Linked DNA regions of Homo sapiens: regions 2, 3 and 4 are each linked to region 1. The links come from fine-mapping of genetic effects on gene expression. A gene starts in region 1. Each other region holds a variant in brackets. All regions are shown on one strand. Distances are between the middles of the regions. Region 1 holds the start of NADSYN1 (NAD synthetase 1). Region 2 overlaps KRTAP5-7 (keratin associated protein 5-7). Region 3 holds the start of MIR6754 (microRNA 6754). Region 4 holds the start of KRTAP5-11 (keratin associated protein 5-11).

What was found. PIP is the estimated chance that this variant, and not a neighbour inherited with it, causes the effect.
Region 2: its variant is fine-mapped to the expression of NADSYN1 in monocytes after LPS (Quach 2016, PIP 0.92).
Region 3: its variant is fine-mapped to the expression of NADSYN1 in whole blood (TOPMed, PIP above 0.99).
Region 4: its variant is fine-mapped to the expression of NADSYN1 in sun-exposed skin (GTEx, PIP 0.94).

The regions. Positions count from the first base shown.
Region 1 is chr11:71,449,168-71,456,889 of GRCh38, reverse strand. NADSYN1 (NAD synthetase 1) reads right to left here and starts at 3,687. Exons shown (of 21, transcript NM_018161.5): 1 at 3,509-3,687; 2 at 1,720-1,780. The coding sequence starts at 3,593. DHCR7-DT (DHCR7 divergent transcript) reads right to left here. Exons shown (of 2, transcript NR_186309.1): 2 at 4,733-5,200. RefSeq lists enhancers at 2,530-3,029, 3,030-3,531, 4,769-4,848, 4,969-5,018 and a silencer at 3,589-3,958.
Region 2 is chr11:71,528,618-71,536,339 of GRCh38, reverse strand. It overlaps KRTAP5-7 (keratin associated protein 5-7), which reads right to left. Exons shown (of 1, transcript NM_001012503.2): 1 at 7,671-7,722. Among named protein-coding and RNA genes, the nearest start is that of KRTAP5-7, 5.2 kb to the right of the region's middle. RefSeq lists an enhancer at 915-974. The variant C/T (reference allele first, on the strand shown) is at 4,624.
Region 3 is chr11:71,471,928-71,479,649 of GRCh38, reverse strand. NADSYN1 (NAD synthetase 1) reads right to left here. Exons shown (of 21, transcript NM_018161.5): 6 at 7,150-7,201; 7 at 6,284-6,372; 8 at 5,964-6,081; 9 at 5,124-5,255; 10 at 1,181-1,255. It overlaps MIR6754 (microRNA 6754), which reads right to left and starts at 6,147; the gene lies at 6,082-6,147. RefSeq lists enhancers at 1,234-1,813, 1,814-2,393, 2,394-2,973, 5,509-6,415, 6,416-7,323. The variant G/A (reference allele first, on the strand shown) is at 4,031.
Region 4 is chr11:71,576,491-71,584,212 of GRCh38, reverse strand. KRTAP5-11 (keratin associated protein 5-11) reads left to right here and starts at 1,338. Exons shown (of 1, transcript NM_001005405.3): 1 at 1,338-2,358. The coding sequence starts at 1,376. The coding sequence ends at 1,846. It also overlaps the pseudogene KRTAP5-14P. RefSeq lists enhancers at 3,836-4,130, 4,553-5,064, 5,065-5,578. The variant A/C (reference allele first, on the strand shown) is at 3,769.

The DNA.
Region 1 (7,722 bases):
AAGAACAAGAGGCGGTGTGCTCAGTGAAGTGATGTCCCTCCTCTCCTGCCTCGGTTTCCTCTCTGTAAGTTGTTGGAATATTTCACAGGAGCCTGCTCAGCAGGTTGTAAGCTACTTGGAGACCTGCTCAGCTGGGCCCCTGTCCCTGCTGGATGCAAATATTCCATCCCGGGGGCCTTTAGTTAGACATCCTCCCACTTTTAAAATGAAACAGGTCCATATTTGGAGGAAAGAGAGAGGTGGATGTAACATTTATAGGAGAGAGAGACTAGGACGAAGAAAGAAAAGAAGACGTAAACTCTAAGCATCTGGGCAACATCAGGCCAGGGGGACTGGGCTGTCACCACTGCAGCTCCTCCAGGGCAAGCAGCAGACAGGACATGAGGATCAGGCCCCCGGACCAGCCCAGGAGAGGTCAGGCTCACGAGACGATCAGGCCTTGAGTCCAGCCCAGGAGAAGATCCGGCCACGGGGCCAGGAGAGGATCGAAGCTTTGTGATATCAGACAGCCCAGAACCCTAGATCCCTTGGCACTTAGGTGAAGAATTTCTTAAAGAATCAATCAAATGAAGACAAATTAAAGAACAAAGTAAACATTCTTGGATATTATGGGAGAAACAGCCCTATTTGAAGGTGGTATTCTAAGGAGAGAAATCAATCTAATGAAGGAAAGAAACTTGGAAGGACTTAGAGAAAGATGCCTCTGGACTCACACAAAACCTCCTAAGAGAAGACAGTTCCTGCTTACTCTAAGTCCAGAAGCAAGAACACACACTAAGGCAGGGGACAAAGACTGAAGAGGAACTTCCAGATCCCACAACGGGTCAGAGGCCTAAAGACCAACGGGAAACTAGCAGAGCACAGATGGCAGCTGACATCCAAAATGAGAAAGGACTATCGCTTACAAGAGACTTACAACGTGGCTACTCATTGTTTTGTTTTCATTTTTGTTTTTGTTTTTGAAGGGACAAGAAGGGAAATAAGCAATCAGTTTTCCTGATTTTTACAAAAAGGCATATAAGAAACGATAACCTATGCTTGCTTGTGGAAAGATTCTGAGATCACGGAATGAAAACCTGGGAATATGTCTTGGTCCTTCAGCCTGCTATAACAAAACACCTTGGACTGGGTAATTAATAAACAGCAGAAATGTATTGCTCACAGTTCTGGAGGCTGGGAAGCCCACGATCAAGGTGCTGGCAGATTTGGTATCTGGTAAGGACTGGTTGTCTCCTTCTCTGTGTCCTCACATGGTAGAAGGGGCCAACAAGCTCCTTTGGGCCTCTCTTGTAAGAGCACTAATCCCATTCATGCAGGCTCCACTCTCATGCCCTCATGACCCAATCACCTGCCAAAGGCCTCATCTCTTAATTCCATCATCTGGGGGTTAGGTTTCAACATATGAATTTTGTGGGGACGCAAACATTCAGACCACAGCAAAAGGGCAGTGGTAACACAGAAGCAGCCCAACTTTGAAACTGGCCTTCATCTGGTAAAAGTCAGTTCTTTTAATTACTCAACATGGGAATCTAGACTTATTCAGCCTCCCTGGGCCTGCCCTTGCTCAGGTGTTCAATGGCATTAACCAGGCCCAACAGTGGGTGTGGCGTGTCCACAGCTCTCAGGACTGTCCCTGCTCCTTCCTTGCCTTCTCAGCTGGGGAAAACTGATGCTGGTATCGCTAGCTGACGACCCCAGGGTGTCTGTGTCTGTTCTCACCATATTTCCAGCTCTGGTCCAAGCCTGTATCTTGCTCCTCTGTTTTTGGCAATTTCAATACCTGTAAGTACAGAGAGAAAAAGAAAATGGAGCAATTTCAGCACCTATACACTCAAAGACAGATGAAACAACCTGCTGCAGTAGGTAGGATAAAAAAAAAAACAAACAACAAACAAAAATGCTCTGTGCCTTCCCAGACGGGATGCAGTCAGGCTTCCTGTTGACAGCATGGCAGCAGAGGGCAGCATACACCTGTATACACCTGTATACACGAGTACGCCTGCACCTGCTTATACTTGCATATACCTGCTTATATCTGCAGGAAATGAGAAACAGGGAGGGCTTGCAGGTCTGACCCTTAGCACCATGGAGGAGGCGGAGGAAGAGGAAGAAGTCAGACCCTGGTAGTTTATTAACAAGGAAATGCCCAACACCATCTAGAGGAAAAAGGACTTAGAGGATTACGATCCAGCAGTGGTGCCACTGTCAGGCACCATCGGCTTACTGGTCTTGGGCAGCAGCTTCCAACAAGCACCTAGGGAGGAGAGGCTGGCAGAGTGGAAACTTAGTTTTGGCCAAGCCTTCTTCAGTTCAACTAGATTTGCTCTGAGCAAATGAGGTGAAAGCAGGTTGATATTTAAAAAATAAAAATAAAAAACCACTGGCTGCGGTGGCTCATGCCTGGAATCCCAGCACTTTGGGAGGCCAAGGCAGGTGGATCACTTGAGGTCAGGAGTTCGAGGCCAGCATGGCCACCATGGTGAAACCTTGTCTCTACTAAAAATACAGAAATTGGCCATGCATGGTGGCAGACGCCTGTAATCCCAGCTACTCAGGAGGCTGAGGCAGGAGAATCGCTTGAGCCCAGGAGGCAGAGACTGCAGTGAGCCAAGATGACACCACTGCACTCCAGCCAGGGCAACAGAGTGACAGTCCATGTCAAATAATAATAATCATAATAATAATCCAGGGCACATACTGATTAGATGCCATCTCTTGAAACATTCTGTTTCTATTGTTCCTGGCAAAGGCTCTTGCAGTCAGCAGACCAGTGCAAGACAAGCTGCAACCTGACTACACCTGCAGGCTTGCCCATTTAGGTGCAGGTGTAATAGTTTAACTTTTCATCCTCCACGGTGCGTCCATATGAACGAAAATTAGATGGTGACCTTTCAACAACCACACCCTATCTTCGAGGCCACCACGCCCGGCTGATTTTTGTATTTTTAGTAGAGACGGTGTTTCACCATGATGGCCAGGCTGGTCTTGAACTCCTGACCTCAGGTGACTTCCACCCCCTCCGGCCCCCCCAAAATGCTGGGATGACAGGCGTCTTTTTCTACTTCCCTTTCTGGGACGCCTTCTCCCACCAGGAAGGCCCACGGGGACCAGAGACCATCAATCTCTGGCCTCTGCACACCATCCCCGCCAGTGCGCAGCCATTCTGTTCAACTTAGATATCTCCGAGAATGGGCAGCTCAGTCCCAACCACGGGACCCCAGAGATATCAGAACACGGGTCCATCCCCAGGCCTCCCGCCTAAGCCGCCAGACTTTTCTTAACCGTGCCTTGTATATCGCTCGTCCCCGGGAACTATAAACACTCACTTCCCGACGAGGACCTGAGCACGTACCACTGGCGGGGTCATTGCCCATTATCTCACCTGATCCCATGCCCAGGGCCGAGAGTTTCCCAGGGCAAGGCTGTGAGCACGCCACGGGCAAGCCTGGGCCCAGCCACGGTGCCCGTGCGCCACCCCAAACCGGTGCCCCCGCCGCCCCAGACTCACTCTTTAAAATTCTTTGCAAATTGCCCTCGAAGTCCAGGGCCCACTGGTTGAGTGCGCAGGTGGCCACGGTCACCTTCCGGCCCATCCTGGCCGCAGTCGCTTGGGCAGGAGGCCAGCGGGGGACAGCAAGACCAGGGTCCCAGCGAGGTAGGCGGCTGGGACGCCGGACCTTCCGGGTTGCCCGGCCCCGCCCCCTCCCCGCCCATCCGTTGAGGCTCCGGCCAAGGAGGACTGCGGCGTCAGGCCCTGCCTACGGATCGCCCCGCCCCGTCTGAGGAGCTCACGACCGCGCCTGCGCAGCGAGGTGGCCTCAGCGTTCACGGCACCGCGAAGGGCCCCGCCCCCGCCCCGGCTCCACCCACGTCCCAGGCCCCGGCCCCGGCCCGGCCCTTGCGGGCAAACCCGTTCAGGTGCACAGGTGCAGGGGGCTCACCGCCCAGCTGCAGCACCCCTCTATTTTATCCCACACCGCCACCCCACATCCAGCTTAGCCATGTTTTATTTTAATACGGCATGAAACGTTCCAAATACACCAAAAGTGGAGAGTACGGTAGGAGCGCTCCATCGTGCCCGCGGGACAGCAGACGATAGCAATCGATTCTCCGTGCTGGGAATCCCGCCACCCTGGGCGGATGGCGCTGAATTCTTGGGAACCCTCTCCTGCCCCTTTCACTCCTGTACCACGTGTGTAAGTAGCTCAGGTAGCGCACTGTTTGCCTTTTCTGAAACTACAGGAACTGCACTTGAATGTGCTTCTGCAACTTGATTTTTTCCCCTGTAATATGAGATACGTTCTTTTAATTATTTTTCTGCAGTTTGGTATTCCATAGTGGCAGTAAAGCAGGTTTATTCAATAGCGGATGGGCATTGACGTTATTAGCAGCGTTTTGCCAACAGACGCACGCACACAGGCACTGCTGCAATTTCCTTTCCGGCAAGGTTTCCTTCGTGACCTCGTTCCGCCAGTTCCTGCAGCAGCTTTGCAGAGTAGTAGGGTTCGTGCTGTTTGACTTTACTAAATATTGCCAAGTCTCTTCTCCAGGGCGCTTGCACCGATTCACTACCAGCGGTTTCTCACTTTTTATTTTTTCACATTTCCTCTTTAGTCCACCCACGGTAGAATCCATTTTTCCCCCATATAAATAACTGCCTCATCATCGTTGCTTGAAGAGGCCATCCTTCCTTCTGTCATTCATGTTAGTTTAAAAACACACAATTCACAAATTTGGAAAAAGAGAAGGCTTTATTTCTTGTAAACGGTCGTAGCCTGCAAGGTGGCGGCCATCTGTCTGAGGCTGGGAATCTGTCTCCAGCCAAGGCCAGAGACAGGCACGTCCAAGGAGGAGGGGTTGGGGCAGGAGCGCTATGCTGAAGGGATTGGCTAAACATACATATTCAACAGGTAACAGGAGGAGCTATGAATATTCATGAAGGTGGTCCTGACACATGCCCTCTTATTGAGCAAAGCATGTAATATATGACCCATGTTCACTTTGGGGTGGAGACTTAACATTTACACATCTTACAATTAGGGCCTTTATGGCAAAACGTCTTTTCAGGACACAAAGGCATGCAGGTGCATCATCTCTCTCTATTAACGGGTCAGCTGGTCGGCATGGTCAGCTGGTCGGTGGTCTCTTATTAGGAGAAAGTCACTGAAATCAGTCTCTTGTCCAATCACAGCTGCTATGGCTGGTGAAACAGAGTCAGTTAGTTGGCACCTAGTGGAGCTGCAATTGTTTTAATATTCCCTATCCCAAGGCTAGTGTGTGTTTGGCTAATAGAGAAACAGAAAGCCTTGTGGCTCTTAGAATATAGTTTATTCTCTAAGTGTGGGTTGCCTGACTTACCCTCGCCTAGCATGGCTTTGGGTCCTGTTTATAATTTGGTATCTTATTGCCACAGAGTCCGTTCTGTCAGTCTTACGATCTCTGTTTTAACATGAATGCCGGCCAGTTGTGGTGTCCAAACTCTGAAACAGGGGGCTATTACCAGGCGCATCTGACCTCCCATCCCATCATGTCTGGGAATTCAGTGTTGAGGTTTTTCTGGTGTCCCCTTGGTCAGGAGAAGGTCCCTTTGGTCAATGGGGGGCTTAGGATTTTATTTTTACCTTATGTACATATACCCGTTTTCACATTTTGAATCACTTTTTTTCCTGTCTATAAAGTAGTGCTTGTTCATGACAATTTGGAAACTCCACAAAAGCACCAGAATGTTATACATGCTAACTTATTTAATCCTCACAGTAGTTTTCATGCTTCTGAAATCCACACGATCTGCTCAAATTATCTCCTGCCAACAATGGCTGATGCCAGGCCTGGGCAGAGAAGGGGAGGATCCTTGAACATCTGGTTGTCCCAGAAAATAAGTAAGTACTCAAAGGATGGTAGATACATGTCATATGAAAAAAGAAGCCAATTTGAAGGGGCTCCCGTTAGCTAAATACAGGACAATACAGTAAGGATCATAACTCGGTCAGCTAAATCCATTAGGGCATACTGATAAAAAATAAATCAAAGAGGAAATCCCTACAGAAGAATGCTTGCTAATAAATAATTTATTAATAAATGTTGAGGGAATGATAAAATTAGAAAATTAACACTTTGTCCCAAGAAATAAGGGATTCAGGCAAGATTCCTCATTAAATGCTAGTTCACTGGGTGAAAGGTCATTTGGGAACAGCATATTTACAGTCTCAAAGTATCACTGCACCAATTACTCATTAATAACAAAAGGAAAAATGGAGACTTCTGGCAGAAACCACGGAGCCCCACTATCAATCATGGAGCACAGTGATATGTTGTCTTAAAAAAGAAAATTTTAGGACTCTTGAAATTTATTAGGTCAACTTGGGCAACAGAGCAAGATCCTGTCTTTAAATAAATAAATAAAAATAAATAAATTTATTATGTCAAGAGGGAAGTTAAGTCCTAGAAACTGGGTCACATAGCATGTTTGTAATTTTGTCTTTTAGATTATAGGCTGTTTTTCTTTATCATTCATGTTTTATAAATGACTAGGAGAGACCACAGACCAGGCCTGCTCCCCTTTTAATTACTGATCTTTATTATAGATTGTCTCTTATTATCCCGTACTTAGACCAGACTCCTACATCTTCAGTGTAAAATGTTAAATATACCTTCCACCTAAAAAAGACCACCTCAGCTGGTCAGATTATAACTTTATGCATAAAAAGATGTTAAAATTCTGTTAAACTTCCCTAAAATTTGTCTACATAAATGATCCCAAACATCTACAGTTCAAAATACTGATTTCCATTCTTTAAAATCTGTGCTTCCCAGGCAGCCTGTCCTCAAACTTTATACACTTAAATAAACTCTCTTTAAGCTAAATTCTGACCTGTTTGGTTATTTCAGGTTGACAGCCTTCTAACAAGATAAAACATGCTCTATGTAGTATATTATCCTGCCAAAAAAAGTGCATAGCCTGAATGCACAGTGTGGCTCCCTGATTAGATCCTGGGGTTTAAAAAAGGGCTGTAGGGCAGAGCTTCACACCTGTAGTCCCAGCACTGTAGGAGGCCACAGTGGGTGGATCGCTTGAGCCCAGGAGTTCGAGACCAGCTTGGGGAACATAGTGAGACCCCCCCCCCCACCCATCTCTACCAAAAAAAAAATAGCGTGTGGTGGTGTGCTCTTGTAGTCCCAGCTACTCAGGAGGGTGAGGGAAGAGAATCGCTTGAGCCCAGCAGTTCAAGGCTGCAGTGAGCTGTGATCGTGCCACTACACTCCAGCCTGTGTGACAGAGACCCCCGTCTTAACAAAGCAAAACAAAACAACAATAACAAAAGGGCTGTAAAGGGCATTATTGGGACAACCGCGGGAAACTGGAGATGGAAAATAGATAACAGCATTGAACTGATGTGGTCATTGTATTTTGGTAATATAGGAGGTTCTTGTTCTTAAGGAGTTGGATACCGAAGTATTTGGGAGGGGGGTATCACGGTATCTGCAGCTAATGGTGGGGGCTGAGTGGGGAGGAAAAAAGAAAAATACACATATATAAACACAGAGGGAGAGAAATGAAACGTGGCCAGCTGCTCACCCCTGCTGAACCTAGGAATCTGCGTGCTCACTTTACGTTCAACTTGTTTGTATGCTGAACATTTTTCAAAACAAAAAGGTGCAGGGAAAAAAGAAAACATGATGTCTCTCTGAGGGCCACAGAGACGTGGCAACCAGATCGCTCTG
Region 2 (7,722 bases), 79 kb before region 1:
TGAGCCACCACGTCTGGCCTTATTCTTCTTTTTTAATCATCGCGTAGTGTTTCGTGTAAAAATACTCTCCACGGCGTTCCTCCATTCTCCTGTTCATAGATATTTGAATTGTTCGCAGTTTGGGGCGATGATAAATAACACATAATCATGCCTTCCAGTCCTTCCGTATTCATGTTTTTGGTTTTAATTTTTTGGTTAAATATTGAGGACTGGCCTTGCTAGACCATAGAGTAGTGTATGCTTAACTTTCTAAGAAACAGACAGCTTTCCAAACGCTCAAGCTGCTTTCCCTTCTCCTCAGCAATGCCTGAGAGCGTCCGCTGCCCCAGGCCTGTCAGTACCGCCATTGGGTTTTCAAATGTGAGGCGTCGGATGGGTGTAAAATTGCCTCTCATGTGGATTTTGATCTGCGTTTCTCTGATGACTAATGTTTGTGAGGGTCTTTTCTTGCACTTACTGGTCATTTTCACATCTTTCTTGTTAAAAGGTTTTGTTAAAATTGTTTGCCCACTTTATTGTAGGGTTATTGAGTTGTTGGAACTCTTCATAAATTCAATATCAAGAATATATGAATGAAATGCTTTGCCATATGTATGTATATATATATATATTTACACATGTATTTTATATACATGCATATATGTGTGAAGGGGGCCAGCCCCTCCACACCTGTGGGTATTTCTCATCAGGTGGGACGACAGACTGAGAAAAGAAATAAGACACAGAGACAAAGTATAGAGAAAGAAAAGTGGGCCCAGGGGACCGGCACTCAGTATACGGAGGACCTGTGCCGGCACAGGCCTCTGAGTTCCCTCAGTATTTATTGATTACTATTTTCACTATCTCAGCGAGAGGAATGAGGCAGGAGAGCAGGGTGATAGTGGGGAGAAGGTCAGCAAGAAAACATGTGAGCAAAGCAATCCGTGTCACAATTAAGTTCAAGGGGAGGTACTATGCCTGGATGTGCACGTAGGCCAGATTTATGCTTCTCTCCACCCAAACATCTCAGTGGAGTAAAGAATAACAGAGCAGCATTGCTGCCGACATGTCTCGCCTCCTGCCACAGGGGGGTTTTTCTGTTATCTCAGAATAGAACAAATGTACAATCGGGTTTTACACTGAGACATTCAGTTCCCAGGGACAGGCAGGAGACAGAGGCCTTCCTCTTATCTCAACTGCAAGTGGCCTTCCTCTTTTACTAATCCTCCTCAGCACAGACCCTTCATGGGTGTCGGGCTGGGGGACGGTCTTTCCCATCCCACGAGGCCATATCTCAGGCTATCACCTGGGGGGAAACCTTGGACCATACCCAGGTTTGCAGGGCAGAGGTCCCTGCGGCTTTCAGCAGTGCATTGTGCCCCTGGTTACTCGAGACTGGAGAATGGCGATGACTTTTACCAAGCATACTGCCTGTAAACATTTTGTTAACAAGGCACGTCCTGCACAGCCCTAGATCTCTTAAACCTTGATTCCATACAACACATGTTTTTGTGAGCTCAAGGTTGGGGCAAAGTTACAGATTAACAGGATCTCAGGGCAAAGCAATTGTTCAGGGTACAGGTCAAAATGGAGTTTCTGATGTCTTCGTTTTCTACATAGACACAGTAACAGTCTGATCTCTCTTTCTTTTCCCTACATATGTGTATATATAATATATATGTATGTATAATACATAATATATAATTTTTCAGTATTTGATTTGCCTTATTATTATCTTATTTTTATAGGGAAACGTTTTTGATTTTGAAGTGCAATTTAACATTTGTTTCTTTGACAGCTAGTGCTTTCTTGTGACCTTTTTGAAAACTCTCTTTCCTAGCTTTTCCTCTAGAAGCATTAGAGTTTTTGTTTCTATATTTAGTTCTATGCTGGATCTCAAGCTAATTTTTGTGTGTAATGTGAGGTAGGAGTTGAGATCCATTTTTTCACATTTTCATCCAATTGTTTCAGCAGCATTTGATAAAAAGACTATCGTGGCCAGGCGCAGTGGCTCACGCCTGTAATCCAGGCACTTTGGGAGGCCGACGAGGTAAGATAACCTGAGGTAAGGAGTTCAACACCAGCCTGGCCAACGTGGCGAAACTCCATCTCTACTAAAAATACAAAAATTAGCTGGGCGTGGTGGTGGGCGCCTGTAATCGTAGCTACTCAGGAGGCTGAGGCAGGAGAATCGCTTGAACCCAGGAGGCAGAGGTTGCAGTGAGCCAAGATTGTGGCACTGCACTCCAGCCTGGGCGACAAAGTGAGACTCCGTCTCAAAACAAACAAACAAACAAAGGTGGTTTGCCTGTAATCCCAGCACTTTGGGAGGCCTATATGGGCAGATCACCTGAGGTCATGAGTTCAAGACCAGCCTGACCAACATAGAGAAACCCTGTCTCTACTAAAAATGCAAAATTAGGTGGGTGTGGTGGCACAGGCCTGTAATCCCAGCTACTCGGGAAGCTGAGGCAGGAGAATTGCTTGGACCCGGGAAGTGGAGGTTGCAGTGAGCCGAGATCATCCCATTGCACTCCAGCCTGGGCAACAAGAGCAAAATTCCATCTGAAAAATGAATAAATAAATGACTATATAAACAAATAAATAAACCAACCATCCTTATCCCACTGAAATCGCTGATGTTTTTAATGAGAATCAGCCGACACTATGGCGAGTTTGTTCCTGTGTCCTGCTCCGCAGGTCTGTATGCTGCTTCCTAATGCAAACACAGCGTCACTGTGACATTATGGGAGATTTTGAAGTCAAGTATTGTGAGACTTCAACCTCATTCTTCTTTTTAAAGATTGTTTTCTTTTTTTCAATTCCTTTGCTTTTCCAACGAAATTTTAGAACCAACTTGATCATCTCAACAACAAAAACATAAATGGATATGGAGGCACATAGATGATAGATGGATGGATAGATAGATAGAGAGATACACAGATGATTCTGAAGAATTGAACTATGTAATTATGGAGGCTGAGCAGCTCCACAATCTGCTGTCTGTAAGCTGAAGGTGTACCCTGCTTGTTTCCAGACTGAGTCTGGTTCCCCGATCACTCTGACCAAGATTCATGCTAAGATGCTCCCTCAGTGACCACTCCACACATAGCCAGCTTCTCCAGGCCCCATACAGGGTCTCCCTTCACTCATTATCCAAGATTCCTTGGGTTGGGGGGACCATCTGGTCTTGAAAATATTCACTAGCGGCAGTGGTGCATGCCTGTAGTACCAGCTACTCGAGAGACTGAGGCAGGAGGATCCTTTGAGCCTAGGAGTTGAAGACTAGCCTGGGCAACACAGTGAGACTCTACCTCTATTGAAAAAAAAAAAAGAAAAGAAAAGAGGAAGAAGAAGGAAAAAAAGAAAATAATCACAAACAAGTAAACAAGCTGACCATGTCTTTTATTTATTTATTTATTTATTTAAGACAGGGTCTCACTCTGTCACCCGGGCGGGAGTATAGTGGTGCAATCATAACTCACTGTAGCCTCAACTTCCCAGGCTCAAGAGATTCTTCCACCTCAGCCTCCCCATTAGCTGGGACTGCAGGTGTGCACCACCACAGCTAATTTTTTTTATTTTTCTGTAGAAAAAAAATAAAAAAATTATTAGCCCAGCTAATAATTTAGCCCAGCTAATTATTTTATTTTTCTGTAGAGACGGGGTCTTGCTATGTCACCCAGGCTGGTCTTGAACTCCTGAGCTAAAGTGTTCCTTCTTCCTTAACCTCCCAAAATACTGGGCTTACAGGAGTAAGCCACCATGCCAAGCCCAAGCTGACCACTTCTAAAAGTGTCCTCCACTCAAGCAGCTCACTTACTTAAGAATATCGCTTATTCCCACACCCCTGCCTCCCAAATCTCTTCCCTGTCTTTGCAGAACCAGCTCTCTTAAATACATTTTCCACAGTCATATTTACAGTGCAAATTTTAAGTAAAATTGCAATGCTTGCAAAAAAGAAAGAAATGTAGGATTCTGTGATGTCACTGAAAGTGACATTGGAGAACATCTGCTGGGAGCCAGGCAAGGCCACTGCAGTGAAGATCAGGCGGTTCACCCTAAAAGAGAAGCTGGCCAAGGAGACAAGATAGGGACTTCCCAATGGGGTGAGTTGACCTCGAAGAGAGGCGTTCGTGAAGGATGAGAAGGAGCTCAGTTGGTTTTGCAACGTGATTCTGTAACGTCATTCTGTAATGTCTTCAGCGTCATTCTGTAACGGCCAACTGTGAAATGAAGGATGTTGCAACAGGCAATCCTATGATTTTATCAAAAAAATGCATAAAATATCCAACACGTGATTTTCTCTTTGTTGATTTCATGGAGAGTTACAACTATGTCCTAAATCTTGCTAACAATTATGTGACATCTGTTCATTTTTAAGGAAGGTTTTGTGGGTTTTTTTGTTGTTTGTTTGTTTGTTTGTTTTTTTGACAGAGTCTCGCTGTGTCGCCAGGCTGGAGTTCAGTGGCAGGATCTTGGCTCACTGCAACCACTGCCTTCCAGGTTCAAGCAATTCTCCTGCCTCAGCCTTCCAAGTAGCTGGGACTACAGATGCGTGCTACCCCGCCCGGCTAGTTTTTGTATTTTTAGTATAGATGAGGTTTCACCATGTTGACCAGGATGATCTTGATCTTTTGACCT[C/T]GTGATCCACCCGCCCCAGCCTCCCAAAGTGCTGGGATTACAGGCATGAGCCACCGCGCCTGGCCGGTTTGGGGTTTCTTTTGATTTCTCTTCTACCCCCCACACCACAAGCACAGACAGCATTGGTTCTGCTGGGCCTATTTCCAACAATGGCCGGCAGCAGGCCTTTCTTTGGTGCCTGTTACTGTGATAGTGAGGCTATCTTTAATCTGCAGGTCACTTGGTCCAGCCTGGGCCAAAGACTTCCCCCTCTTCCCTGGAGAAACCTCTTTATTACACAGCAAGACACAAATTTACCCACGGGAGCCACAGGCCAAGCAAAGAGAACGCCTGGTGAGCCACAGTGGGGAGAAGTTTCTGGCGTCTTCTGGATCCACTGACCCCACAGCAGCCCCTCCTGCCCCACTGGCAAGGCTGGAGGCAGCCACCAACTCCCTACCTGTGGTGTGGTCCGCCCTCATGGAATCTCATCAGAGTGTACCCTTAAAGACGGTTCTTTTCATTTCTGCTTTAATTGTCCTTTGCTGCTCAAAGGCCTTCTAAGTCTTATCATTTACCAGGCAGAACTGAGAACTCTGTAGCTCCCCAGGTTTCTCCAGGCTTTCTAGAACTTTCCTCCTGGCTGAAACCAGCCGGTTCTTTCGAGCTCACCCTGTTCTTGTAATGCTTTGATAAATGCAGCCACAATGACCCACGCGGGAGTGGCACTGTGTTTTCTGAACTCTTCCCTCAGGGATACACGATCTAGGACAGTCTTACCAAACACATAATAACTACCTTTCTCGCCTCCGATAGCTTTCCTTTCCACCCACCCCCTGACCAATAAACCAAGGCCACAATGCTATGTTTGTGTTCTGGTAGGTTTCTGGGTCAACCAGGATAGACCAATTACGCTGCTCACACGCGCCACCCCCACGTTTCAGTGACTTCACACGACACAGGCTTACTTCTTGTTCACATCGCAGGTCACTGCACATCAGCTGGTGACTCTGCTCTGTACTTCATCACTCTGGGACTCAGTCGGAAGCAGCAGCCACTGCTTGGAACGTTAGTGGTCATGGTGGGGGAAGAAAGAGAGAATGCAGAAAACTGCAGCAGGTGCTTCAAACTTCTTCCCACTGACGCAAGCAAATCACATGGCCACACCTGACTTAGAGAGGGCTCATGAAAGGGCCACCCTATTACCTGCCATCCAACCTGTTCCCAGAAGGAGAGGAGAACCAGGATGCCTACAAATAGCCCTAATTATCACCCCATTCTGTGCTCTGCGTGGCAATGCTGCCAGTCCTATAGATAGGTTTTTGGCTAAATGAGCTTAAGTTTTTCATTTTTACTCTAACATATGCATTTAAGGCTATAAATTTTCCACTGATTTGGCTGCATGCAGTAAATTTGATAGCCCCATTATTTCATTAGGGGTTACAAAATGATGAGTTTCTAATTCTATGATTTCTTCTTTATTTATAAACTGGAATACTTCCTCTAATTTTGTTACCATAAGATAGAGTTTGTCTGTCAGAGATAGAATAAGTGCCTGATTATTTTCCTTTACTTAGTCATCTTTAAAATAATGAACTGATTCCTAGAATCCTCTAAAGGCAACTAAGTTTTACAGTTTGCATAGGATCTGTATTATTATTTTTTGTGTATGATTACTCACTCCTAGTTTAAACATATTTGATGTGTATCAGTCCATTTAAGAAATTGGTGTTCAGGTTGTCCCAAGTCTGTCTACAGAGAGTTTCTCTAGGTTTGCCTCTCACCATTTTTTTTTTCTTTTTTCTGAGACAGAGTTTTGTTCTTGCTGCTCAGGCGGGAGTGCAATGGCGCCACCTCAGCTCACTGCAATCTTTGCCTCCCAGGTTCAAAGGGTTCTCCTGCCTCAGCCTCCCATGTAGCTGGGATTACAGGCATGCACCACCACACCCAGCTAATTTTTTGTATTTAGTAGAGACAGGGTTTCACCATGTTGGTCAGGCTGGTCTCGAACTCCTGACCTCAAGTGATCCACTCGCCTCAGCAGCCATGCACCACCACACCTGGCTAATTTTTTGTATTTAGTAGAGACAGGGTTTCACCATGTTGGTCAGGTTGGTCTCGAACTCCTGACCTCAAGTGATCCACTCGCCTCAGCCTCCCAAAATGCTGGGATTACAGGCATGAGCCACCTTGCCCGGCTGACTCTTTAGTTCTTTTGATGTGACTGCATTAGTCTTAGTTATCATCTCTGCTTTCTGGGATAACAAGATGTTCTAGATTTGTCTTGTTCGCTTCCAGCCCATTCACCAGAGAAGCCAGGTTCCAGGTAGATACAATAAATAGCATTTGAAGATAACAAACAGTCTTGGTGCTAGGAGTGTTCACTGCTACAGGATGGCTCATTATTTCTAAGTCTTCCAATGGAGGAGGAAACTATTTTTATTTGGATAAAAAACATCATGATTTCATATCGATATATCTAATTCAAATTCAGGATGACAAGGTTTTTACTTAACCTCATCAGTTCCACACCAAAAATTCTAGTTCTGATACCAACCTAATTATGCATTTGCTTTTTCCATACAGCATTCACAGCAGAATAACGACACCACTGCTGCCACCATGACTACTAAAAATAGCTTAGGAATTTTATTTTTGTGTTCTTTCTATGCTTAGGACATATCCCACCAATAAATTGCTGTGTTTCCAAATAACTTGAAATAATTCAACTCTATTAATATTGCCTTTTTTTTTTTTTGACGGAGTCTTGCTCTGTCGCCCAGAATGGAGTGCAGTGGCGCGACCTCGACTCATCACAACCTCCCCCTCCCAGGTTGAAGCCATTCTCCTCCCTCAGCCTCCGAAGTAGCCAGGATTACAGACACGTGCCACCACACTCAGCTAATTTTTATATTTTTAGTAGAGACAGGGTTTCACCATGTTGGCCAGTCAGGTCGCAAACTCCTAACCTCAAGTGATCCGCCTGCCTCGGCCTCCCAAAGTGCTGGGATTATAGGCGTGAGCCACTACGCCCGGCCCTTTCAAAATTCTTAAAAAGCAATATTGGCTTGGTGCTAGGAGTGTTTATTTACAGAGGCAACAGGCTGTGTAACAACAAAG
Region 3 (7,722 bases), 23 kb before region 1:
TGTGTGATTTCATCCCAATGAAACGTCGAGAATAGGCAAATCCATGAAGACAGACAGTAGACTTGTGGTTGCCAGGACCGGAGGAGGGGAACGGGGTGCATAATGGGTACAGTTTCTTTTTGGGGTAATGAAAATGCGCTAAGATTGTGGCTGCATAACTCCATGAGTACATGAAAAACCACTGAATCAGGTGCTTAAATGGATACATTGGGTGGTATGGCAAATACAACTTAATAAAACTGCTATGAAAAAAAGGCTGGGCACGGTAGTTCACGCCTGTAATTCCAACACTTTGGGAGGCCGAGGCAAGAGGATTGCTTTAGCCCAGGAGTTCAAGACCATCCTAGGCAACATAGTGAGACTCTGTCTCTAAAAAAAAAAAAAAATTAAAAAAAATCAAAAATTAGTTGGGCATGGTGGTGTGTGTCTGTTGTCTCAGCTACTCAGGAGGCTGAGGTGGGAGGATCACTTGAGCCCCAGAGGTCCAGGCTGCGGTGAGCTGTGATGGTACCACTGCACTCAAGCCTGGGCGATGGAATGAGACCCTGTCTCAATCAATCAACAGCAGAAGAGTCCGCTCTGTTATGAGCATCACACTTCTTCAATGTTTGCAAAAATCACTGTCTCATGACAGCTGCTCAGTTGGACATCCTATTTGTGACGATGTCCTGCAGAAACGCAGAGCTCCAGGTTACCAGCAGCAGGACCTCGGGCTGCAGGAGGGGCGTTACTTGCATCCCAGGGTCTCAGACACAGGCTCACTTGTGCCTTGGACCTTGCCTCCAACTGCCGAAGTGGGGACCAGCCTCGGCTGCACACTGTGTGCCTGTTCCTACCACGCTTGCCACCCCTCACCTTGAGGCCTTCCTGGGCTCCAAGGCTGCTTGGGTCTTCCTTGTGTGGCAGCCCCTAGCACGCTGACTGTCTCGTCAGCCTCTCTGCCTGCCTGTCCCCAGCTCACCCCAGCTCAGGGCCTGGCCCAAGCAGAGGATGACGGGGAACAGATGGAAGCAGGTTCTGTCTGCGGCACCAGCCCCTTTCCACGCTCGGGAAGTCCGGAACTTCCCTGTCAGACTTTTCAGGCACTGCACCCTCACGGCCTCCACCAGGCCCGCACGAATGGGGCCACTTTCCACGTCTTTGATGAGCATCCCACACAGGTGTCTACTGGAGCACTCACCGCCAGGTTTCGAGATGAAATCTCCGCCCTGTAGCTCCGGACGTCCTCCAGATCCAGCGTGGCCGTCAGGACTTCCTGGAGAAGGAAATTTCAAAGAGAACCCGTGATTTCCCGTTTGTTCAACTCCCACGTGTAATTTGGCCACTGTCAAAGGTGTTGTCACACCTTCTAAAGCAGGGGCTGAGACCCTGGATTCCTGGAGGCCCAGGGATGGGGCAGATGACATTGAGGCGGACCCATAGCCCTTCCCCGTCACTGTTGCCACCGGAACCTCCACTTCATTCAGACACTTGCCAGTGACCCACTAATCACAGCACAAGACACCACCCTGTCAATAAGACACACCCCGTCAGTAAGACACACCCCTGTCAGTAAGACACCCCTGTCAGTAAGACACCCCCATGTCAGTAAGACACCCCCATGTCAGTAAGACACACCCCTGTCAGTAAGACACCCCAGTGTCAGTAAGCCTCTGCCAGCGACTTCTGGGAACACCCCTCTCATCAAAAAGACACGCAAGGAGCCAAGGCCACTTTGCTGCCTCTGCATGTGGCTGTGTGAAGATGGGATGGCTGGAGCTGGGGCAAACATCCCATGCCCACGAGGAGAGGCAATCTGAGACAGGCCAACACAGAGGAGGGCGGAGCTGGAGAAGCAACCTGAGACTGAGGCCAACACAAAGGAGGATGGAGCTGGGGGAGGGCAGAGGCGGAGCCGCAGCCCCGGCATCCACACCAGGGTCTTGGCCTGGACGTGCTGCCTGTGTCACAGGAGGTGACACTGCCCTGCCTTTGAACCCGGCTATGGTAGGGGTTCTGCCAATTGCGGTATATGCAGAAATGAGGTTTTAACTCATAGGGGTTATTCCTTCATGAAAAAATATCTTTATCAAATTGTGTTCCTGAGTGTTGCCTTGCTAAACACGAGTGTGGGACAGCGGGAACAGCACCTGCACCACTGCGGCGGTTCACAGGATGGCCGTGGCCACCTTGCGCGCCCCTTGCTCCTACCGCCGTAACAGGGGGCCATACCTGGCCGGAGATGCCCATGAAGACAAGGAGACCGATTCACGCATCCTGTGGTTCTCTGGCTGCTTCCCAAAGTGACAGCACCCTGGCCACCAAGCTTCCATGCAGAAAGCCACGGTCCGTGTGAAGCCATAAAACAATGGAGATGAGGGAAGGCGAGGATCGTTCCATGAGAAGGTGGCTCCATCCCACTCTCCCCGAGGCTAGGTTAACAGCCTGCCGCACGGCGGCCTGACTCCAGGCACACGACAAGCCGGAAAGCCCAGGGGATTAGGAAGACCCTGAGAAACGCGGGCCCGACGGGGGTGATCGGCAGGTCTGTTGCTTGAGCAGGAGGCAGAAGGGGTGACTCTGAAATGATTCCACGTGTCACAAGACTTCTGTTGACCATTTCAGGTGCACCACGGAGGACCTGGTGGAGGGCAGTGGCCCGAGCCTGAGGACAGCGCGGCCACTCTGAATACAGCAGGCCTGTGGCCACAGCCTACGACGGAGCTCTCAGGCAACATCAGGAACTCTAGAGACGTGTAAGGCAACGGCTCCCGGATTCTAATGCACGAAACAACTGCCTGGTGCTCACTAAATATACAGACCCCCGAGGACTCCGATTTGGTGGCTTGATGTGGGGCCGGGAACCTGCGGGGGTCCTGGGGCAGGTGATTGATTGCCAACACACCTGCCAATCAACACGACCACCAATGTGCCTGTGGCTCTGACGTGAACGGGGAGAGGACCACACTTCCCATCAGCAGGAACTTAATCCTTCTCTTCAAAGCCCTTCCAGCTCTGTCGCGGTTAATGATGAAGCGCAAGGAGGCCTCTGGGGACACTGTCATGTGGAAAGCAGGGCCTGGAGTCGAGACGGCCACACCCTTGCCTGCCCCCGTGCAAGAAACCCCTGAAAAGACCGTGGAATTCTTGTTCAGGGTGAAGTTCACTTGGTCCACTATGAAACTGGTTTGGTTTTGTAACCGCCTCCGTGCTGACCACACCTATGCTGTGCAGAAAGCACCAGACAGAATCATGAGGATGGGAACGCAGCGGGAGCAAAGCAATGAACTGCTCAGACAGCCTCGCAGAGTCGGCGACGCCAGGACACAAGCTCGCCCTGCTCCTGCAAAGCCAGCTGCAGAACTCGCCTCCGGTGCTACCGCCTGCCTCGGTGAATCCGCTGCTTTAATGCCCATTCCCAACAAGAGCAGAGTGGAAGGCCGTCGGGTCCAAAGACGAGTCAGGCAATGCTGTGTGTGGGAGGCAGTGCTGTGGACCCGCGTGTGGTCTGAGCCCGAGAGTGGAGACGCTCCCACCCACGCCGGCTTGGGGCAGAACTAAAAGTTACTTTTTGTTGTATTTGTGCACTTGGGATTTGTTTCCATTTGTGGCAATAATAGCCCATTTTTTCTTGTTTGCTTCAAAAACAGAAAGAGAGGCCGGGTGCGGTGGCTCACACCTGTAATCCCAGCACTTTGGGAGGCTGAGGTGCGTGGATTGCCTGAGCTCAGGAGTTTGCGACCAGCCGGGGCAACACAGTGAAACCCTGTCTCTACTAAGTAAATACAAAAAAATTAGCTGGGCATGGCAGCATGGGTCTGTAGTCCCAGCTACTTGGGAGGCTGAGGCAGAATTGCTTTAACATGGGGCGGAGGTTGCAGCGAGCCAAGATTGCGCCACTGCACTCCAGCCTGGGTGACAGAGCAAGACTCCATCTCAAAAACAAACAAACAACCGAAAGGGAGAGTGGCCCAAACCTCCCCAAGGACTTTCCAACTGTGGTCCCTTCTCTGTGGAGGAAGTTTGCCTCCATGGCGATAACGATTACCTG[G/A]GAAGCCTTGCCCTGTGCTAATGCGCATCTTTAGCCGCAGAATGTGCAGAGCTTTCATCAGCTTCCCAAAGGAATCTGGGGCCCCAACAAGGTCCTGAACCCCATTCCAAGCGGCAGCTCAGTTGCTGGTGAGGAATGTGCCAAGCAGGGTTCTTAGCTTTGTTCTCTGTCATCTCCTTCCTCGGAGCACCCACATATCTGTGTCGCTTCGGGATAGCAATGGCGCTTCCGACCTGTAACTCACAGCTCCCCCAGGGCCCTCCCTCACGCAGCTGGCCGCTGTGTGCTCAGAGATCCCCACAGAACAAAGCCTCCCTGACCAGAGTGTCCTGGGGTCTCCACTTCTGCTTCCCAGGACTCAGGGGCAGCGTGGCATAAGGCCTCAGATGAGTATATGTGGCCTCAACACCCAAGGAAGACAGACAGGGCCTTGAACGGCCTCACCATACATGGGATCCCTGGACCTGTCTCAGGGGCCATGGAGCCTGCTAATTTCAAAGGAGTGGCTTTGGTTCCCTGCCAGCCCTCGGAATTCAAACAAACCAACGACACCCACCCGCAGGGGCCAGGCGGCACCCATCCTCTCATCACCACAGAGCCCGCCTCCCACAGCGGGGGCCGTCCCCTCTGTTCCTGAGCACACTCCCACCTGGCCCTGCGTGGCACGGAGCCCTCCTCCCGCACTGTGGGAACGCAGGACTCGTAAGCTGCCCTCAACCTCATCCGTCCACTACTATGTGCTGTGTGTCGGGGTTCAGCTGTCTCCAGACCCGAGGGCGGGAGGTCCCCCCTCACCAACCAGGTAAATTTGAGGCCATCAGAGCAGGCGGGACCCCTGGGGGCTTCTCCACAGGGGCCCTCACTAAGCACCCGGCTTACAGGGGAGAGCCAGGAGCAGGCGGGACCCCCGGGGGCTTCTCCACAGGGGCCCTCACTAAGCGCCCGGCTTACAGGGGAGAGCCAGGAGCAGGCGGGACCCCCGGGGGCTTCTCCACAGGGGCCCTCACTAAGCACCCGGCTTACAGGGGAGAGCCAGGAGCTCGGTCTCTGCACAGAGAACCCTCCCCCAGGCATGTCCAGGCCCGCTCATTACCACGTCATCCAGAGAAAACTGGGATCCTTGAGCAAAGACGCTTCCGTTCATGGCAATCATGGCACAGCCGTCGTAGTACAGGCGGTCCCCGTCACAACCCTTCTGGTTGGCCAGCAAGTAAATCCCACCGTTCTGAAAAAGGAGGACCCCATAGCGGAGTGGTCAGCTGTGTCCACCACCCTCACCTGCCACCTGCCCAAGTACAGGAACCTCCGCCGAGTCCCGCTAGGTCATCCTGAGTGGTCCCACCACCGCAGAGATAACGCATATGTGTGGGGAAGCACAGACCTGTGAAGCTGCGGCGAGCCCCGCCTTGCTAGGTGCCAGGCTCTACACAAAACATTTGTTTTTCCTTCACAACAACCCTACAAGGCAGACCCCATCACCTCCCTCAGGCATGATGAGGTTCAGACAAGCCAAAGAAAGCTCTGCATGATGAAGCCAAGACTCAAACGCGGCTCAGCTAGACCCACATCTGCCCCGTGAAGGATGAACCAGCACTGCCCCTCGCACGTCTCACTGCCCAACAGCAGGAGCAGCAAACGTACGGGTGTTCCCTACGCCTCACCATGATGCCAACGAACAAGGAGCACGTTCCGGTTCCTGGTCATGGCAGAGAGGGTGACAGGGTTGCTTCATAGGGTGGCTGCGTGGGTGAGATGGGCTGTGCCGGCGAAGCCCTGGAGGGCAGCAGGGCACACTTGTTGAGTCCAGGCCATAATTACTAGCCTGGAACATCCATTGTGTGTGGGCCCAGCCCTGCGATGGGCACTGAGGATGCAGGAGTTCTTGAGATACAGTGTCTGCCCTGTGGCGCACGCTCCCTGGCCCAGCCCCTACCTTGCTGGTGACCATAGTCACGAGATCCACCCTGGTGTTGGCTTTGCGCAGCACTTGGTGGCTGCCCGAGGCGTTGGTGATGATCTCCACGCCATCCAGGCCCATGTCGATGTGCGGGCTGCAGGCAGAGGCAGGTGAAGAGAACAGGCCACCAGACTCCTCCAAACCAGCCTCCCTGGCAGCCCCTTGCACTCTCCCACGGCAGCTCCCAGCCCACGGCCACGGCCACGGCCACGGCCCCAGGACGTCTGCAGTCCCAGGTCCTCCCAGCTGGCCCATATGAGGTGGGCGATCAGACAGCACAGGGGCATGGGGCTGACCTGTGGGGTGTCCAGAGCTCCTCACAGATCTCACTTCCAATGCAGGTGTCCCATGTCACCAGCACCGCATCTCCGAAGGGTACGGTTTCCTGCAGTCGGAAGAGAAGAGTGCATGAGATTCACTAGCCATGCCCTGTCTGGGCCACGCACTACCTAGGGCCACGGACATCCTGCAGCCACAAGAGCTGGAGTTGGCTCTGGGCTCTCGCACATTCCGAAGAGGTGGGTGCCCTGCGGCTGCGCATGGGACACCGGGTGGTGCCAGGCAGAGACGCCCTTAGGAGCCTATGTGTGGAAGAAGGGGACGCCTGTACTCTGAGCAGCCAAGGGGCAGAATGTCACGGACATCGATGGGGCTGCCAATTGGGGCCAGCAGCTTCTGAAGCGACCCTGTCCTGTGATCACACTGAAGCAGCTGCTGCCCTGTGCTGATGAAGCTAGGCCCCCACTCCCAGCCACAAGGCAGTGGCTGAGAGGGGACACCAGGGTGCCTTCCCTTAGAATTCAAAATTGAGAGTAGGGCATTTTGCTGTTGGTCTAGATAACACTTAAATGTCAGAACATAGCCCCTGGGGATGGAGAAGGCTGTCTTCTGCCACAAGGAGGAAATGAAGAGGAGGAAGCCAGTGTGAGTGGGGGAAGGGAGGAAAAGCAGCCCCAAGGCAAGGAGGAGCCACCCTGGCTGCTGTCTGGCCACGCAGCCCCCCTCACTATAGGAACCTGCCTCCTTTGTCTGTTTCAGACCTGTGAGCACTGTGGTGCCTTCCATTACCTGGATCCCAAAGCGTTCCCGCCCCACCTGGTCCACTGTTGGCCGAGAACAGCGACAACCGACTGAAAAACGGGCTCCACACCCAGGGACTCACCTGCTTTGTCAGGTCCTGTATCATCCGAGGCAGAAAGTACTCCTCTGTGTGCCTGGAGAGGAAAACACCGAGGAGCTGAGGATGAGCATCTCAGGACAAATGAGGAATGGCGGCTACATTTAAACAAAACTCAAACTGAACCCTCCGAACTGATGAACTGGCAAAGGAACTGCCAAGCGTTCCCCCCAATGCAATAAACAATCGCATTCAGGTAAAAAGAAAAGAGTATGAAGGTGGCTTGAGGAGACTATGTGACATGGTGGTGGGCTGGGCTCTCCGAGCTTCGGGCTGCCTCAGTTTCCCCACACGCTCATGTTCATCTTTACTGAGAGATGTGTCACAGGGGATTTGCTGAGAACTGGCCACGTTGCCTCATGGAGAAATCCAGGTGGAATTCCTGATCGCTGTTACTGAATCAGAAAAATCGTGTGGCATTAACCCGAAACACAATGACAAACCAGTATCATCCCTGGAATAAAATGATGCTCTCAATTCGAGAAATCAGGAGGAGGGTTTAATACCAACTTTAGTGCAAGGTGTCCCAAGAAGCTCCACCAAGAGGCGGAATCTTCA
Region 4 (7,722 bases), 130 kb before region 1:
TAGAGGAAGAGATTCCCTGCAAACACCAAAATGAGATTATATTATTGTTATTTGGACCGTAAAGGAAAAAAAAATTGGCTGAGCATGGTGGCTTATGCCTGTAATCCCAACACTTTGGAAGACCAAGGCAGGAAGATCACTGCAGACAAGGAGTTTGAGACCAGCCAGGGCAACTTGGCAAGACCCCATCTCTACAAAAAATTTAAAAATTAGCTGGGTATGATGACACACATCTATAGTCCCAGCTACTCAGGAGGCTAAGGAAGGAGAATTCTTTAAGCCCAGGAGTTAGAGGCTGCAGTGAGCTATGATCATGCCACTGCACTCCAGGCTGGGTGTCAGAGCAAGACCTTGTCTCAAAAAAAGAAAAAAAAAAAAAAAAAAAGGATCTCCACTGATACAATTTGGATGTCCCCTCCAACTCTCACATTGGTGGGGCGGGATAGGAGATGTTTGAATTATGGGGGCGGATCCCTCATGAATGGTTTAGCGCTATCCCCTTGGTGATGAGTGCGTTCACTCAGATCTGGTTGTTCACAAGTGTGTGGCCCCTCCTCACCCCTTGCTCCCATTCTCACCATGTGGCGTGCCTGCTCCTGCTTCACCTTCCACCATGAGGAAAAGCTCCCTGAGGGCTTGCCCAGAAGCCGAGCGGAGATGGGTGCAATGCTTGTGCAGCCTGCAGAACCATGGCCATTCTAACCTCTTTCCTTTATAAATTACCCAGCCTCAAGTATTTCTTTACACAATGCAAAGAACGGTCTAACACACCCAGAAAACTGAGACTGGCATGAGTAAAATATTACTTAATATAATATGCATGAATATTTATATTAATATTATGCTTGCAGAAATCTACCAAATCCATCTCCAGGATACATGATAATAAAGAATTTGTTTTCTTCTTTACTTGTGTTTCCTATAAAGACCATGGGTGAATTTTGAAATCTAAAAACATAAAATTAATATTATCTGGAGGGATAGACAGGGAAGATGAGAGCATGTGGGCAGAGGCTGTTGCCCATTGGTCACATGTGGTCAGCAGAGAGCGGGTGACCAGCACCCTGGAACTTTGCGGGAAGCACCAGACCAGCCTGGAGCTGAGGTTTTAATTGTAGGGGCCAAAACAAATGGGGAAGAAGACAAATTTAGAAAACAAAGAAAGTAGATGCTCAACTGAGCCAGGAGGAAGTCACTAGCAAAGAGGAAAAAAATAGAGCTCTGGAAAAATAGTGTAAACAGTCACAAGGAAAGGACCCTGCGTCCTCCCTGACCTCTGGACAGGTATATAAAGAGCCCAGGCTCAGGGGGCTCCACACCTGCACCTCCCTCTCACCTGCTCCTCTACCTGCTCTACTCTCAATCCGCCAGAATCATGGGCTGCTGTGGCTGTTCTGGAGGCTGTGGCTCTGGCTGTGGGGGCTGTGGCTCCGGCAGTGGGGGCTGTGGCTCTGGCTGTGGGGGCTGTGGCTCCAGCTGCTGTGTGCCCATTTGCTGCTGCAAGCCTGTGTGCTGCTGTGTGCCAGCCTGTTCCTGCTCCAGCTGTGGCTCCTGTGGGGGCTCCAAAGGGGGCTGTGGCTCTTGTGGGAGCTCCAAGGGTGGGTGTGGTTCTTGTGGCTGCTCCCAGTCCAACTGCTGTAAGCCCTGCTGCTCCTCCTCAGGCTGTGGGTCATTCTGCTGCCAGTCCAGCTGCTCCAAACCCTGCTGCTGCCAATCCAGCTGCTGCCAGTCCAGCTGCTGCAAGCCCTGCTGCTGCCAATCCAGCTGCTGCCAGTCTAGCTGCTTCAAGCCCTGCTGCTGCCAGTCCAGCTGCTGTGTCCCCGTGTGCTGCCAGTGTAAGATCTGAGGCTCTGGACCCAGACCTTCAGGTTTCTCCTCTTTGGTGAAAGCATTTCTTATGGTTTCTCTGAATCAGTTCATCCCACACATCATCCTGAGGCACCTGCACCTGCTCTAGCTCATCATCCATGCATGCACCTCTTTCCATGGCTCGGCTCTCCTCTAGGCCCTGCCTTCAGCTTCCTCACTCCGGAAACATGTGTTTCCTTGATGCAGGAGGTGTTCTTCCCTGGACGCCATGGTGTTCCCTGCACTTGGGTGTGGACCATCTTCTTCTTCTCCCTGGGCTGACTGAGATGCTAGGTCTGACCCCACAAGGCCAGGCCGACATTCCTGAGTGATCACTAAGAACCAGTTTCTCAACCACCACTGGGATTCTGGGTCCTCCTGGGCTGCTGCCTGTTCTCCTGTGACCCACCTGTGAGCAAGAAGGTCTCCTTCCTTCCTGTTGTCTCCATCTATTTAAAAAAAAAATGAATGAATTTCCTTGCAATAAAGCCTCTCATGTCTGTAAACCAACTGTACACTTGGTGCAATTCTGTCTAACCCCTTTCCTGTGTGGTGACTGATTCTGTGTTCTAATTTGTCAGCTAAGCTGGGAAATGCCTGCCAGCAGGCTTGGTGCATTCAAAAAGAACCACGAAGTTCACTTCTGCCTTCCACGCGGCCTCAAATATCTTCACTCTCTCTGCTTGCAGAAGAAGAGGGCTCAGCCTGGGGAGGATTCGGTATTCAATGCCCACCCTAGAGGCGCAGAGGGGCAGGCGGGCCCTGAGTCCTGATGACCAGCCAAGCAGGGCTTTGCACAAGACCCATGGCTTCCAGCTTCCCGCTCTCCTCTGGGGCCTTGGAAGGACCCAGGCAGGGCAAGGTCGGAGGAGGGAGGAGTGAAGCACCGCTGAGCTCCAACGCACTCTGATTCAAACACTCAATTAGCCTTTTACAATTATGAGGTCAACGGCTTTCCATAACTAAAGGTAACCAGGAAGTTACAGAATGGCCCAAGGTGTCCTCGGAGCTCAGTCTCCCGGCAGGAAAGGAGAGTTCCTGGGAAGTGACACATTTGGGGACCCTGAGCCAAGTCCATCTGTTTCATGGTGATGCGCCACCACGCTGAGCCTGTTCTCTGACCAGTGTCACAGGCAAGGCTTTAGAAATCACGCACTGGGGAGGAGGGGACAAGAGTGATCTGAGGACGATTTCCAGCCAAGCGAACCCGGAGGGAAAAGGTGGAGGGAAGACAACACACAGGGAGTGCTGGTGAGAAATGAGCTCCCACAGAACACTCACAGATCTAAGCGACTGCTGATACTGCCGGGGAAGAGCAGAGTGGGAATTTCCAAGACAAATTTCTGAGAGAAAAGAGATGCAATGTAAGGAAAAATGAAATAATCTAGAAATAAAGGCTTAGATTATTTCAACCACATTTAGGAGAGGGAATAAAAGTGTGTCAAAGGTGCATCTTGCTAGGGGACATGGCTATTGATAGTTTCACAACGCTAAAAGGAAATGCTGCTTAAGACAGTTCACTCAAAAATCCAAACTGGGAAACTCCAGAAGGTGGCAGCAGACATGAACGCAGAGTTCATTACATCTGAGCCCTGTACATTCCCACAACCCACAGGACACCAAGCAACTAGGTAACAAAACCAAAAATGCATGCTGGAGATTTATAACAAAACCAGGTAAGCCAGGCATGGTGGTGCAAACCTGCAGCCCCAGCTACTCAGGAGGCTGAGGCAAGAGGATGGCTTGAGCCTGGGAGTTTGAGGCTGCAGTGACTTTTGATCATGCCTCTGAACTCCTGGGCAACATAACATGAGACTTTGTCTCAATAAACCAAAAACAAAAAACAAACAACAACAACAAAACAAAAACAAACAAAAAAACACCAAACAAAAAATGAACAAGTGAGCCTCAAAACACAAG[A/C]CTGTCAGGACAAGTTTCCAAGAGCCACAGTTCCCCAGAGTATCAGTGTCTGTGTAGGAGAAAGCAAAGAAACATCTAACAGAGCTGAAAACAGGGGAACCTCGAAAGAGCCAACAGGTGCGTGCCGGAAAACACAGCGTGAATTTTGAATTCGGCTCCTGAAATGGGGAAGGTTTTCCTCCCTCTAGTGGTGAGTGGGTGCAAGGGCCCTTGGTAAGTCCCTACAGGCAATGGAAGAAAGCTGGGAAGCCTGCCATGAAACAGATCACAGTGGTAGCGTACTGTTCCCAAAGGAGCTAATGAACAATGAAAGGAAATGATACCAGACATAAAAGAGGCTGCATGTGGTGGCTCATGTCTGTCATCCCTGCAATTTGGGAGGCCAAGGCAGGAGGATCACTTGAGACCAGGAGATCAAATCCAGCCTGGACAATAAAGAGAGATCTTATCTTTAACTTAAAAAAAATTTATTTTAAGTACCTGGGCATGGGGACACCCACCTGTAGTCTTGTTTATTCAGGCAGATTGCTTGAGACCACGGGATGGGGATTGCAGTGACCTGTGACTGCGCCACTGCACTTCATACTGGGCAACAGTCTCAGTGCAGTTGCTGCAAACTCTGCTGCTGCTCCTCAGGCTGTGGATCAACCTGCTCCCAGTCCAGCTGCTGCAAGCCCTGCTGCTCCCAGTCCAGCTGCTGTGTCCCTATTTGCTGTCAGTACAAGATCTGATCTTTAACACACAGTCATATTGGCTCTCATCCACATGCTCCAGACAGAGACCAATGTATCAGCATAAAGCCGTGAATCACAGCCCTGGGGTGACTGTTTTCTAGAATGCTGGAGCAGCAGTATTTGGAACAGGAAGAGCCTTCACAGGCCCTGTGCGGGGCACAGCCCCTCACCACCCTCGTCTCACCATGCGCGGCTGTCATGGTGCATGAGACCGCTCCTCTTCCTCTCCTGCACCACCTCTCTCTACCCTGATGTTCTAAACCCTCTCCTCCCAGGCACAGTCCCAGGAAAGCTCCTGGTGCCGTTTGTCTATTGGGCTCTGCAAATTCTGAGCCTTGACCTTGTGATTCCTTTGAATAAGCGATCGCTTCCCCTCACGAGTCCTGTTTTCAGTGTGGCCCTTTTCCTGCTGTTCCTTTTGAATGAGCCTTTCAACCTCCCTCCTGGCCCTAAAGCACCCCCTTTCTTTGCGCTTCCTGATCACATCAGGCTGTTGGGTGATCCACTCCTACATGCGGCACAGTTTGCTAAGCACCACTGCATGCACCAGGAGCGCGAGAAGAACGCAGCGTGGCGCCTGGCCTTGGGGTGCTTGGACGGGAGCTGGGGAGCCCCTACGATAGGGTGGAGGGGTAACTGAGGTCCTCCACAGCCAGGTGGCGAGAAGGCCGAGCGGGGCAGATGTGAGAGGGTCTGAGACGCAGCATGACAGGGAAGAGACCAGCCAACTCTAAAAATAGCTTTGGGAGTAGAATTTCAAGCATGGTGACTGCTTGGATGGACGAAGGGCTGGGAGAGGCATAGAGAGAAAGGAGGAGGGAAGGGGGGCTCCCTTGTTCCTGAGCCAGTGCAGAGTCCTCCAGGACCCACTTCTTTCTGTGTCCTGCCCACCCTGTGACCTGGCCAGCTGCACGTTTTCCCAGCAGGCTTGAAGCCACGCTGTGCTGTGAACATTCCCAGGCCCTGAACACTGAGAAAGGTGTTCACGTTGATGCCCAAAACAGTGAAATCTCAAACACGTGGCTAAACATGCAGAAGCTATCTCAGACCCTGAGGCTAACCCCTCACAGCCCCATGTGAGCTCCACGGCCTGGGCCCTCGCTGCAGACATGCCTGCGTGTCCCCCTTCTCTCAGTTGTGACTGTGGCTTGGACCTACCTACGTCTGCCCCCTCTGGCGTTGTGGCCTTGGCTGGCATCCTCTGAAAAAGATGAAGGGAGGGAAAGGGACACAGCCCTCCTGACCTCCCCTGACAAATGCTCTTGACTGACCCCCTCTCTGGAGGGGCTGGAGCTGCCCCTGCAGTGACTCCCCTGCCACAGCTTTTGGGGTGACTCCAGCAGCAGGACTGGCCAGACAGAACAGTAAGGGAATTCAAAAGAGACCCACCTTATTGGTCACATAATTTTGCATAAATCCCACAGGATAATATTAGCATTGGTTTAAGTGGTTCACTGATTGTTTTAAAGGGATTTGTATTTTGAAGTCTTAATAAAACAAGCAGAGAAAATCCATGCGACCCCTTGATTCTGCCAAAAAACCACCTGCTTCTTGGAAGAGGCCAGACCCCGTTCAGAGCCACCGTTTACCAATCAGAGAAGTAGAGAGGCTCGCTCAGCAGAGATGCGTGTCTCCTCTTCAAGCTGTGAGAGTCTGAAGCCCCCAGACACTAGAGGAGTGTGTGGAGGGTGTATGGGGGGTTGTTTCTGTTTGAATGTGTGTATGTGAGTGTATGAGTGTGTGTGTGAGAGAATGCGTGTATGAGTATGCATATGACTGTGTGTGTGTGCAAATATGCATGAGGATTTGCATGAGTGTGTGAGTGCACATGAGTGTATGAGCAGGTGCATGAGTGTGTCAGTGTGTGTGTGAGTGTGAGAGTATGTGTATGAGTGTGTGAGTGCATGTGAGCGTATGAGTCGGTGTAGGGGTGTGTCAGTGTGTGTGTGTGAGTATGAGAGTGTGTATGAATGTGTGAATGCATGTGAGTGTACGAGTTGGTGTAGGAGTGTGTGAGTGAGTGCGAGAATGTGTATATGAGTGTGTGAATGCATGTGAGTCAGTGTAGAGGTGTGTGAGTGTGTGTGAGTGTGAGAATGTGTGTATGAGTGTGTGAGTGTGAGAATGTGTGTATGAGTGTGTGAATCCATGTGAGTGTACGAGTCAGTGTAGGGGTGTGTGAGTGTGTGAGTGTGAGAGAGTGTGTATGCGCTTGCACAGAGTGGCTCCCATCACCAGCCCCGGTAGCTGGAACCCCCTGCGGTCATCACTGGAAGTCCTGACCAGAGCTGCCTGCCCTCCAGGCTCTGATGATCCTGCCAAGTCCTGCGGGTCCTCCTTGAAGAGCGGCAGCCTGAAGCCCCGACCCCTGCAGACCCAAGGCTGTCTGGGGACGGGGTGGTGCACCGCGTCCTCCTGTCCAGGGCCAGGCGCAGCGAACATGCCCATTAAACACAGATGCCCCTCACCCGCCGCCGGGGCCTGGGGCACGGGCACGTGCGTGTAGGCTTTTCAGGAACAGGATTCACGGCTTCTATCACCAGGTTCTGGAACGGGTCTCCCACGCACGTTGACCTGGGCCTCAAGTACTACAGCCTCCACGCGGGAAAGAAAAGTCCCGGTTCTGCAGGGTGACCAAGTCACATGAGGAGGACAGGCCAGGGATGGAGGAGCGGGGCAAACTAGGGGTATCGTTCACCCAAATTTGTCCGCAGCCCCATCCAGAGGGATTTCCTGCTCTGACCCCACCCTGCCCCTCATGCAGACGGAGGGGCGCAGGCGGCCGGCAGGGCGGGGAGAGTCCATCAGCCTCAGAGAAGCCATGGGGGGCTGGGGGCGGGGACCGCGGCGCTGACTGTCCTGAGAAATAGGAAGAGAGAAAGACACAGACGCGGACCCGATTCTCAACTCAGAACACAAGTGGAGAAGAGGAGCCTCTCGGGTCTAGGGGCTCACGGGACATCCCTGCCCCTCCTGCCAATTTTGCGTTTCCGACCCAAGTCCATGTGTGAATCCCCTGGGCTTTGGGGGTTCCCCATGCCCTGGTGGAGCAGCCCCTGCCCCTCCCTCAGAGCATTTCTCCAGCCCCTTCCCCACCACCTGCCATTCCCACAGGAATGTGCCAAGAGAAGCTTTAGGGCAGCCAAGGGCTTCCTTTCTTCTTGGCATCAGCTGGAGGTCTCTATGACCGCTAATGGTTGGGGGCATGGTGGGGAGAATT